Linked DNA regions of Homo sapiens: region 2 is linked to region 1. Evidence: fine-mapped expression QTL. A gene starts in region 1. The other region holds a variant in brackets. All regions are shown on one strand. Distances are between the middles of the regions. Region 1 holds the start of STARD10 (StAR related lipid transfer domain containing 10). Region 2 has its middle 23 kb from the start of PLEKHB1.

Evidence for each region. PIP is the estimated chance that this variant, and not a neighbour inherited with it, causes the effect.
Region 2: its variant is fine-mapped to the expression of STARD10 in amygdala (GTEx, PIP above 0.99).

The regions. Positions count from the first base shown.
Region 1 is chr11:72,791,430-72,796,803 of GRCh38, reverse strand. STARD10 (StAR related lipid transfer domain containing 10) reads left to right here and starts at 2,757. Exons shown (of 7, transcript NM_006645.3): 1 at 2,757-3,929. RefSeq lists enhancers at 2,432-3,001, 4,133-4,632.
Region 2 is chr11:73,666,951-73,672,324 of GRCh38, reverse strand. No RefSeq gene overlaps it. Among named protein-coding and RNA genes, the nearest start is that of PLEKHB1, 23 kb to the right of the region's middle. The variant GT/T (reference allele first, on the strand shown) is at 2,309.

The DNA.
Region 1 (5,374 bases):
GCGTAACCCTGTCTCTACAAAAATCACAAAAAATTAGGCTGGGCGCGGTGGCTCACACCTGCAATTCCAGCACTTTGGGAGGCCAAGGCAGGGGGATCACCTGAGGTCAGGAGTTTGAGACCAGCCTGGCCACCATGGTGAAACCCCATCTCTACTAAAAATACAAAAATTAGGCCAGGCATGATGGCTCACGCCTGTAATCCCAGCACTTTGGGAGGCCGAGGTGGGTGGATCATGAGATCGGGAGTTCGTGACCAGCCTGACCAACAGCGTGAAACCTCGTCTCTAAAAAAATACAAAAAAAAAAATTGCTGGGCATGGTGGTGAGCACCTGTAATCCCAGCTACTCAGGAGGCTGAGGCGGGAGAATCTCTTGAACCCAGGAGGCAGAGGTTGCAGTGAGCCAAGATCACGACACTGCACTCCAGCCTGAGCGACAGAGCAAGACTCCTTCTCAAAAAAAAAAAAAAAATTAGCTGGGCGTGTTGGTGTGCGCCTGTAATCTCAGCTACTTGGGAGGCTGAAGTAGAAGAATCCCTTGAACCTGGCAGGCGGAGGTTGCAGTGAGCCAAGATCGTTGCAGTGAGCCACTGCACTCCAGCCAGGGTGACAGAATAAGACTCCATCTAAAAAAAAAAAAAAAAAAGGCAAAACATAATTAAAGTGAGAATTAAAAAAAAATTAGCCAGGTGTAGTGGTGTGTGCCTATAAACACAGCTACTCAGGAGGTTGAGGTGGGAGAATAGATTGAGCCCAGGAGGTCCAGGCTGCAGTGAACAATGGTCTTGCCTCCAGCCTGGGTGACAGAATGAGACCCTGTCTCAAAAAAACAAAAACAAGGCCGGGCACAGTGGCTCACACCTGTAATCCCAGCACTTTGGGAGGCCGAGGTGGGCGGATCACACGGTCAGGAGATCGAGACCATCCTGGCTAACACGGTGAAACCCCATCTCTACTAAAAAAATACAAAAAAAAAAATTAGCCCGGCGTGGTGGCGGGTGCCTGTAGACCCAGCTACTCAGGAGGCTGAGGCAGGAGAATGGCATGAACCCGGGAGGCGGAGCTGGCAGTGAGCCCCAGATCATGCCACTGCACTCCAGCCTAGATGACAGAGCAAGTCTCCGTCTCAAAAAAAAAAACAAAAAACAAAAAAAAAACCACAAACGAACAGCCCCTGCCCTCCCCCCAAAAAAGACAAACTGCATCTCACACACAGGTGACCCCTGTGAATACAGTCTCTGAGGAGTGATGGAAGAGGAAGCCCTGTGAGAGGTGCAGACTGCTACCCTCTAGAACACCAGGATGCCTAAATAGTAGAGGGCAGTTTCATTAGCGACATCAGTTTGCAAACTGAAAAGAGACACTCTCCTGTAGGTACCAAAGGTGCTCTCTCTTTGTATAGGGAAAAGGCAGGCTGGTTGTTTTTTGTTTTTGTTTTTTGAGACGGAGTCTCGCTCAGTCGCCCAGGCTGGAATGCAGTGGTGCGATCTCGGCTCACTGCAACCTCCACCTCCCAGGTTCATGCCATTCTCCTGCCTCAGCCTCCCGAGTAGCTGGGACTACAGGCGCCCGCCACCACACCCAGCTAATTTTTTTGTATTTTTAGTAGAGACGGGGTTTCACCATGTTAGCCAGGATGGTCTCAATCTTCTGACCTCGTGATCCGCCCGTCTTGGCCTCCCAAAGTGCTGGGATTACAGGCGTGAGCCACCACTCCCGGCCTAGGCTGGTTTATGACTCACAGGGTCTGTATTTCACAATAATCATACATATTCAGCAGGTTTTGGGGAAAAGCTATACATATTTATGAGGGGATGTGAGTGCATGCACAATGGGTAAACACCTGTAACATATGTTCCATGTTCACTTTGGGATGGGGTTTTTGCGTTAAAGTGAGGTGGAATTTGGTTCTTTGCATCATAAGGTGGACTATAGGACACAAACACAGTTTGCGTGCAGTCTCTATGAGCTTGCTGAAACTGGCCTGAGGTCTGCAGTTACTTATCAGGAAAGAATGTTTGTAAGGCCTGTCCTCTGTCGATCAGCGTTGTAGTGGTCTGAGTTGTAAATCTCAGTAAAGAAGAGTCTGACAATTTGCATGATAGCTCCTATTGCTAGGGGTTTAGTAAGAGTGTGGTTTTTCTGGCAGCAGTAGAAATTTAAGAAGTTGCCATGCCAGCTGACAGCTGAGCCCTGAGGTAGGCAACGTTTGTTTCCTTAACCTTAACCTTAAGGTCCATCGTAGTTGATAAAAAGGCATCTGGCCAGGCCTGATGGCTCACGCCTATAATCCCAGCACTTTGGGAGGGTGAGGCGGGAGGCCAGCAGTTCTGGGGCCACTGCACTCCAGCCTGACAGACAGAGACCCTGTCTCAAAAAATAAATAAATAAAAAAGATAAAGGGGCATTTGTCTTGATCGCTCAGATCACACAACTAATAAGTAGCATTCTTTCTAAAAGCCGCAACAATGCTACTCCTCTCTTATAAGAGCTACTGTGTAACTCCTGCCCAACTCAAACCCACAGGCCCAGGCTCAGAACACTTGGCTCCATTGCTTCACTGTTTCCCTGCTAGCACGAACCCCCCAAACTCCATCTCCCAACATGCCGCGGGCCCCCTTTCTGTCAGCCTGACTCTTGAGCTCCTGAGAAATGTAGTTTTTCCAGCGGCCCAGCCCCAGAAAGGTCCTAGCCAAGAACTACAGTTCCCATGTGGCAATGCGCGCGCCATTCCGGTGGAATTCACCGCGGTCTCCAGTTTGCCATGATGGATGCCAGAACCTGCACGTGGGGCTTGGTGACGCGATGACTGAGATGCTGGAGTCCCCGGTCAGAAGGACGATGCCGAGCGCGCCGTATTTTCTCCTGCCTCTCCTCAGATCGCCGCCGTTGTTGGGCTGTGGAGACGTCTCAACCAAAGTGGAGCCGACAGAGGCCCCGGGAGCCGTGGTGACAGAGCGGCCACAACCACTAGGGGGCGGGAGGCAGAGCGGCCCCTAGTCCGCCCCTAGTCCGGGACCTCTGGGCGGTCCCGGGCGGGAAGCGCACGCGCAAACGCGGGGCTTCGCGGCCGCTGTAAACACCAAAGAGCGCCTGCGCAAGCCGAGAGTCTCGGGATCGACACGTGGGGGCGCCTGAGCGAAGATAACCGTAATAAATAGTAACCTAACGGTCCAGTCATCGTTCTGTGGTCCTTTCTTTTATGATTCACAAGGAATGACCCTCTTCATCGCCTCTCCTAATTCAGTCCTCACAACAGTCCTTTTACAAATGGGACAACAGGTTAGAGGAAGTCAGGCAGATTTCCAGCATCATAGAGAGTAAAGGACCAGGGAAGGATCAGGATTCAAGGACTGCACCCAGGCTCTGCTTCCAGCTTGCTGTGTGACTTTGGGTAATTTTGTTCCCTTAGGGAACTGAGCTTTCTCATTTGTAAATGCAAACAGGCTGTTGGGAGGATCAAATGAGATCCAGGGGTGAAAACAGCTTAGTTTACTTTCAGGAATTTACCCACGCGGTATATAAAGGCAAAATATTATTATAGTCAGGTGATTGTAGATTGAGGAACCCATTTCCTCATTCTGCAAATTGCAAACCTGAGGGCCCAAAGAGGGACAGGGGCTTGCCCCAGGTCTCAGCAGGCTGTGAGCAAGAGCTAAAGCCTAATCCTCCTGCCTTTGGGCCTGGAGCCCTTCCTTGTACCCCAGGGGTCAGTGTCTTTGTTGGATACAGGCTTAGATTGACTGACTGTACCCTGAGAACCTAGGGGAGTCCCTGTTCCCAATTCTTCTCCTACCCCCACCTTGGCCTGATGGAGGAAGACCCTGCTGTGTTGAGATGAGCACCAGAGCCAAGAAGCTGAGGAGGATCTGGAGAATTCTGGAGGAAGAGGAGAGTGTTGCTGGAGCTGTACAGACCCTGCTTCTCAGGTCAGTGGCCCAAGTAAGGGAAAGAACCCAGGTGTGACAGATGAGGGGGCAGCACTAAGGGGACAGACTCTGAATGGAAAGGAGTGGGAAGGCAGTGGACACTGTTTCTGAGCTTGGGAGGAATTGGGTACTCAGGTAACTCCATCTGGGGGCAGTGGAGCTGGAGGTGATACCTGGGCTGGCCTGGCTGATGAGAAGGGGAAGTGATGCGCATTGAGCTGAGGTCTAGGAGCCACTCCCCAGCCAGGTGAAGCGAGGTGGCACCTAGGCACACCATGGCACCTGCAGGATCATGCAGCTAACCCCAGGGAAGGGGACTTTTCTCTGACCCTTGGAGCGGTGGAGCTGGGCTGTATGCAGCTGATTCTCTCTAGAGTGCTCTTAGAGGTTTTGGGGGTAGGTTGGGGGAAGGGCTGGGAGACCCTGAGGTCTCATTACAGATTGGGCCTCCCCAGGCAAGTCATGAAAGGCAGGTATATGTAGAAATAGAAATCCAAGATCCTTCAAGATATCCCAGATAGGCCAGGCACGGTGGCTCACGCCTGTAATCTCAGCACTTTGGGAGGCTGAGGCGAGCGGATCACCTGAGGTTGGGGGTTGAGATCAGCCTGACCAAAGTGGAGAAACTCCATCTCTACTAAAAATACAAAAAAAAAAATTAACCGGGCGTTGTGGCGGGCACCTGTAGTCCCAGCTACTCGGGAGGCTGGGGCAGGAGAATGGCGTGAACCCGGGAGACGGAGCTTGCGGTGAGCCGAGATGGCGCCACTGTACTCCAGCCTGGCTGACAGAGTAAGACTCTGTCTCAAAAAAAAAAAAAAAAAAAAAAAAAATTAGCCAGGTGTGGTGGTGTATGCCGGTAGTCCCAGCTACTCGGGAGGCTGAGGCAGAAGAATCGCTTGAACCCAGGAGGCGGAGGTTGTCGTGGGCCGAGATGGTGCCATTGCACTCCAGCCTGGGCAACAAGAACGAAACTCCGTCTCAAAACAAAACAAAACAAAACAAAACACAACAACAAAAAGGTATCCAAGATAATTCAATGGAATTATCTGGAGGTGGATCTTGGATTCACCTCCAAGCATTTAATTATCTGGGCCTTCACTTATCATTTCTGTTTTTCAGCCAGAGAAACTGAGGCTAAAGAAGGAAAAGGACCTCTTTTTTTTTTTTTGAGACGGAATTTCACTCTTGTTGCCCAGGCTGGAGTGCAAGGGTGCGATCTTGGCTCACTGCAACCTCCGCCTCCTGGGTTTAAGCAATTCTCCTGCCTCAGCCTGCCAAGTAGCTGGGATTACAGGTGCCCACTACCATGCCTGGCTAATTTTTTGTATTTTTAGTAGAGACACGGTTTCACCATGTTGGCCAGGCTGGTCTCAAACTCCTGACCTCAGGTGATCCATTCGCGGCCTCCCAAAGTGCTGGGATTATGGGCATGAGTCACCACG
Region 2 (5,374 bases), 880 kb before region 1:
GCAAAGGAATATCTTAAAGTTAGAAGATATATTTAAATGGGAAGAGGAGCATTAAAATTTGGAAAATGTATATCCTAGCCTTGTGGTAGAGAAGGAAAAAGCATTTTCAGGAGAGGAATACAAGCAACAGCTTGCTAGGGAAATTTATATAACTAAAAGGGAGCCAAGTGCTAATAGTCAAGACAGTGGGAAAAGGCCTCAAAGCCATTTCAGAAGTCTTTGGGCCAGTCCCTCCCATCAGAGACCTAGGAGGAAAGAATGGTTTCAGGGCCCAGGCCCAGGGCCTGCACAGCCTCAGGACACTGCTCAAAGGGCCCCAGATATAGCTCGAGGCGGTGTTCCAGCGGGCGCAAGCCATAAGCCTTTGTGGCTTTCATGTGATGTTAAGCCTGCAGCTGTGAAGAATGCAAGAGTGAAGGAGACTTGGCAGCTTCCACTGAGATTTCAGAGGATGTATGAGAAAGCCTAGGTGCCCAGGCAGAAGACTGCCACGGGGCAGAGCCCCCACCGGAGCCTTTACTAGGGCAGTGCAGAGGGGAAATGTGGTATGGGAGCCCCCACAAAGAGTCACTACCAGGGCAATGCCAAGTGGAACTGTGGGAAGAGGGGCCACTGCCCTCCAGACTGCAGAATGCTAGAGCCACCAGTAGCTTGCACCCTGAGTTTAGAAAAGCCACAGACACTCAACTCCAACCTGTGACAGCAGCCACAGAGGTGGAGCTGCCTAAGGACTTGGGAGGCCAACCCTTGCATCAATGTGCCCTGGATGTGGGATATGGAGTCAAAGGAGATTATTTTGGAGCTTTAAGGTTTAATGTCTGTCATTCTGGGTTTCAGGCTTGCTTCAGGCCTATTGCCTTGTTCTTTTGGCTGATTTCTCCCTTTTGGAATGGGAATGTTACTCAATGCCTATACCACCCTTGTGTCTTCAAAGTAAATAACTTGTGTTTTTGGTCGGGGGGTGGTTGATGGTGGTGGTGGTGGTTGTTTAGACAGGATCTTGCTCTGTCGCCCAGGGTGGAGTGCAGTGGCATGATAGCTCACTGCAACCTCTCCCTCCCAGGCTCAAGCAATCTTACCACCTCAGCCTCCCAAGTAGCTGGGACCAAGGCACGTGCCACCATGCGTGGCTGATTTTTGTATTTTGGGTAGAGATGGGGTCTCACTATGTTGCTTGGGCTGGTCTTGGACTCCTGGGCTCAAGCAGTACACCTGCTTTAACCTCCCAAAGTGCTAGGATTACAAGTGTGAGCCAATAACTTGTTTTTGATCTTACAGAAAATCATACGAGGAAGGAACTTGCCTTGAGTCTCAGAAGAGACTATGGACTTTGGACTTTTGATTGAGTTGATGCTAGAAGAGTTAAGACTTTGAGGGATGATTTTTTTTTTTTTTTTTAAGACAGAGTCTTGCTCTGTTGCCCAGGCTGGAGTGCAGTGGAGCTCAATCATTTTGAGGTCAGGAGTTTGAGACCAGCCTGGCCAACGTGGTGAAACCCCATCTCTACTAAAAATACAAAAATTAGCCAGGCGTGGTGGCGAACGCCTGTAGTCCCAGCTACTCAGGAGGCTGAGTCAGGAGAATCGCTTGAACCTGGGAGGCGGTTTCAGTGAGCCGAGATCAGGCCACTGCACTCCAGCCTGGGTGAAAGAGCAAGACCGTGTCTCAAAAAAAAAAAAAAGTTGCTTGACATCATTTAAAGTTAAATATGTTTGTCATATAACCCATTTATTCCATTCCTCAATATTTACCCACAAGACATGAAAGCATGTGTCCATACAAAGACTTGTACACAGGCTGAGCGTGGTGGCTCATGCTCATAATGCCAGTACTCTGGGAGACTGAGGCGGGAGGATCACTTGAGCCCAGGAATTTGAAACCAGCCTGGGCAACATAGGGAGACCCCATCTCTACAAAAATAAAAATATTAGCCAGGTGTGGTGGCACATACCTGTGATCCCAGCTACTTGAGAGGCTGAGGTGGGAGGATTGCTTGAGCCTGGGAGATCGAGGCTGCAGTGAGCTGTGATTTTGCCTCTGCATTCCAGCCTGTCTCAAAACAAAAACAAACAAAAAAACTTGTACACAAAATTCATAGTAGCTAGTATTGCCAAGAACTAGAAACAACCCAAATGCCCATTAAAAGGTGAATATATAGGCCAGGCGCGGTGGCTTATGCCTGTAATCACAGCACTTTGGGAGGCTGAGGTGGGCAGATCACAAGGTCAGGAAATTGAGACCATCCTGGCCAACATGGTGAAACCCCTTCTCGCCTAAAAATACAAAAATTAAGTGGACGTGGTGGCAC[GT/T]GCCTGTAATCCCAGCTACTCCGGAGGCTAAGGCAGGAGAATTGCTTGAACCAGGGAGTCGGAGGTTTCAGTGAGCCAGGATCACACCACTGCACTCCAGCCTGGGCGACAGAGTGAGACTCCATCTCCAAAAAAAAAAAAAGTCACCTTCTCACCTACTGCATTTCCATCTCTATTCTTTTTTTTTTTTTTTTTTTCTTGAGACGGAGTCTCGCTCTGTTGCCCAGGCTGGAGTGCAGTCGCGCAATCTCGGCTCACTGCAAGCTCCACCTCCTGGGTTCAGGCCATTCTCCTGCCTCAGCCTCCTGAGTAGCTGGAACTACAGGCGCCTGCAACCATACCTGGCTAATTTTTTGTATTTTTAGTAGAGATGGGGTTTCACCGTGTTAGCCAGGACGTTCTCGATCTCCTGACCTCGTGATCCGCCCGCCTCGGCCTCCCAAAGTGTTGGGATTACAGGCGTGAGCCACCGCACCCGGCCTCCATCTCTGTTCTTTAAAGGATATCTCTATGTGCAGTCCATACTTAAGGAGTTGGGATTTGTTCTTCTTTAGGGGGGAATATCTATGTAAATTGTTTGTAATTCTCCAAGGGAGATTTGTCTCTTCTCCCCCATTTATTTATTCAAATGTTCAGTAATTTATATCAGTATGGACTCATGGATACTTATTTTATACGTTGGGTTATAATCTAATACTACTTTATTTGGTTGCCCAGATTGTTCCAGCTCTTTCAGTTCTTTTGCCCCTTCGATGTACCCCCATCGATGTGCATTTGTTTTGGTCTTTTGAGTTCTTCTTTATGGCAGTATATGATGCTCCAGGCTCATCATGGATACTTCTTTATCCAGTCCTGTAATCAGCCATTTCTCCAAGGATCGCTGATTTCTTTGACTGGAGAATTGGTATTAGACATGAAGATGTGGGGCCAGGTGTGGTGGCTCACGTCTGTAATCCCAGCACTTTGGGAGGCTGAGGCGGGCGGATCACGAGGTCAAGAGATCGAGACCATCCTGGCCAACATGGTGAAACCCCGTCGCTACTAAAAATACAAAAATTAGCTGGGCATGGTGGTGCGTGCCTGTAGTCCCAGCTACTCAGGAGGCTGAGGCAGGAGAATTGCTTGAACCCGGGAGGCGGAGGTTGCAGTGAGCTGAGATCATGCCACTGCACTCCAGCCTGGGTGACAGAGCGAGACTCCGTCTCAAAAAACAAACAAACACAAAAGATGTGGGGCTAGGTGTGTTCATTTCTTTCTTTTCTTTCTTTCTTTTTTTTTTTTTTTTTGGACACAGAGTCTCACTCTGTTGCCCAGGCTGGAGTGCAATGGTGTGATCTCGGCTCACTGTAGCCCCTGCCTCCCAGGTTCAAGTGATTCTCCTGCCTCAGCCTCCCAAGTAGCTAGGATTATAGGTGCGTGCCACCACCACACCCGGCTATTTTTTGTTTTTTTGAGACAGAGTCTCGCTCTGTCAGCCAGGCTGGAGTGCAGTGGCACGATCACGGCTCACTGCAACCTCTGCCTCTTAGGTTCAAATTATTCTCCTGCCTCAGCCTCCCTAGTAGATGGTATTACAGGCGCATGCCACCACGCCCAGCTAATTTTTGTATTTTTAGTAGAGATGGAGTTTCGCCATGTTGGCCAGGCTGGTCTTGAACTCCTGACCTCAGGTTATCCACCCACCTGGCCTCCCAAAGTGCTGGGATAACAGGCGTGAGCCACTGTGCCCAGCCTAGGTGTATTCATTTCTTTGAGGCTCTCTCAGCTGGCAGATGAAGGAAATATATGTATGTACTGATGTGTATATACACATATCTGTAAATATTTCTGTATATAATCCCGTCTCTATGTCAAGCTAGACATGAGTTCATACTGATGTCTCCAACTGTAATCCATTACCACATGAATCATTCTAGCTTCCTCCCTTTGCTTATCTGTAAATTTCTACTTCACCACTGAGAAACCTGGCTTCCAGTTGATCTAGGGACTCCAATGTGCATCTTTGACTTATCAGCATATACTTAATATTGTACTACTTCACATAAGGTATTTTGTGAAAGGAAATTTACCAGAGTATCATTCTACTGTCCCACCCCCACTCCCTGTCCTCTCTGCTTTTTTGGTGTATTTTTTATTACATTCATAATTTTGCATATACTTGTGAATAATTAATTCTGTTGACTATTATTCCATTTTGTGAATATTACCAGTAGATTTATCCTGTAGAATTTAAGTTTTTTCCATTGCTGTTATAAACACTTTTCTACCTACTTTTTGGTGAAGGTAAGTACACATTTCTGTTGGGTGCACCCTAGGAGTAGAATTGATTCGTTATAATATATGCATATACTTGGCCTTACCAATCAGTTTCCAAAGCAATTGTACCAGTTTAACTTTACAGTTATTCCAGAAGTGTATGAGACTCCATGTCAGTACTTAATGTCATCTGTCTCTTTCATCTTTGCCCATTTTAATTCAAAACTTTTTAAAAACTATGTGCTGACCAGACAAAACAATTTGTGAGCCAGATGTCGTCCATAGGCCACCTCCAGATTAGAGTGTTTTGTCTATGAGGATTAATGTCTGTCTTAATGTGTGTGTGAATAATTTAAAAATTGTCTACTGGACAGCTGGAAGAATTAAAAATTCATGTTGCAGTCCTACTAGTGGAGAGATTTTGAAGCAAACTGCATCGGGAACATCTATTTGCACTCATTGCTTTGTTCATTGGGGTGACTGGAAAGCACAAATGTGGAGAGGTTTTTGGAGAAAGCCAGAACAGAGGACAGGGGATTGAAGTGAGGAAGTAGGAACTTCTGCAAGTGAACTAAAAACCTGTCCCCTTACTGGGGGGATAAAGAGTAATTTCATTTTATTTTTTCATTTCCTTCTTTTTCCTTTGTTACTCCACCATTTCTATGAAGTCTGATGCACGTGCTTTGTTGGGGCTGGTGATGACATGGAGAATGAAAACTCGGGCAGTAAAGGAAAACCACCCCACATTGATCCCATAATTGGTGTCCAGGTAGAGAGAACAGGCATCCATGTGAGAGAATCTCACTAAG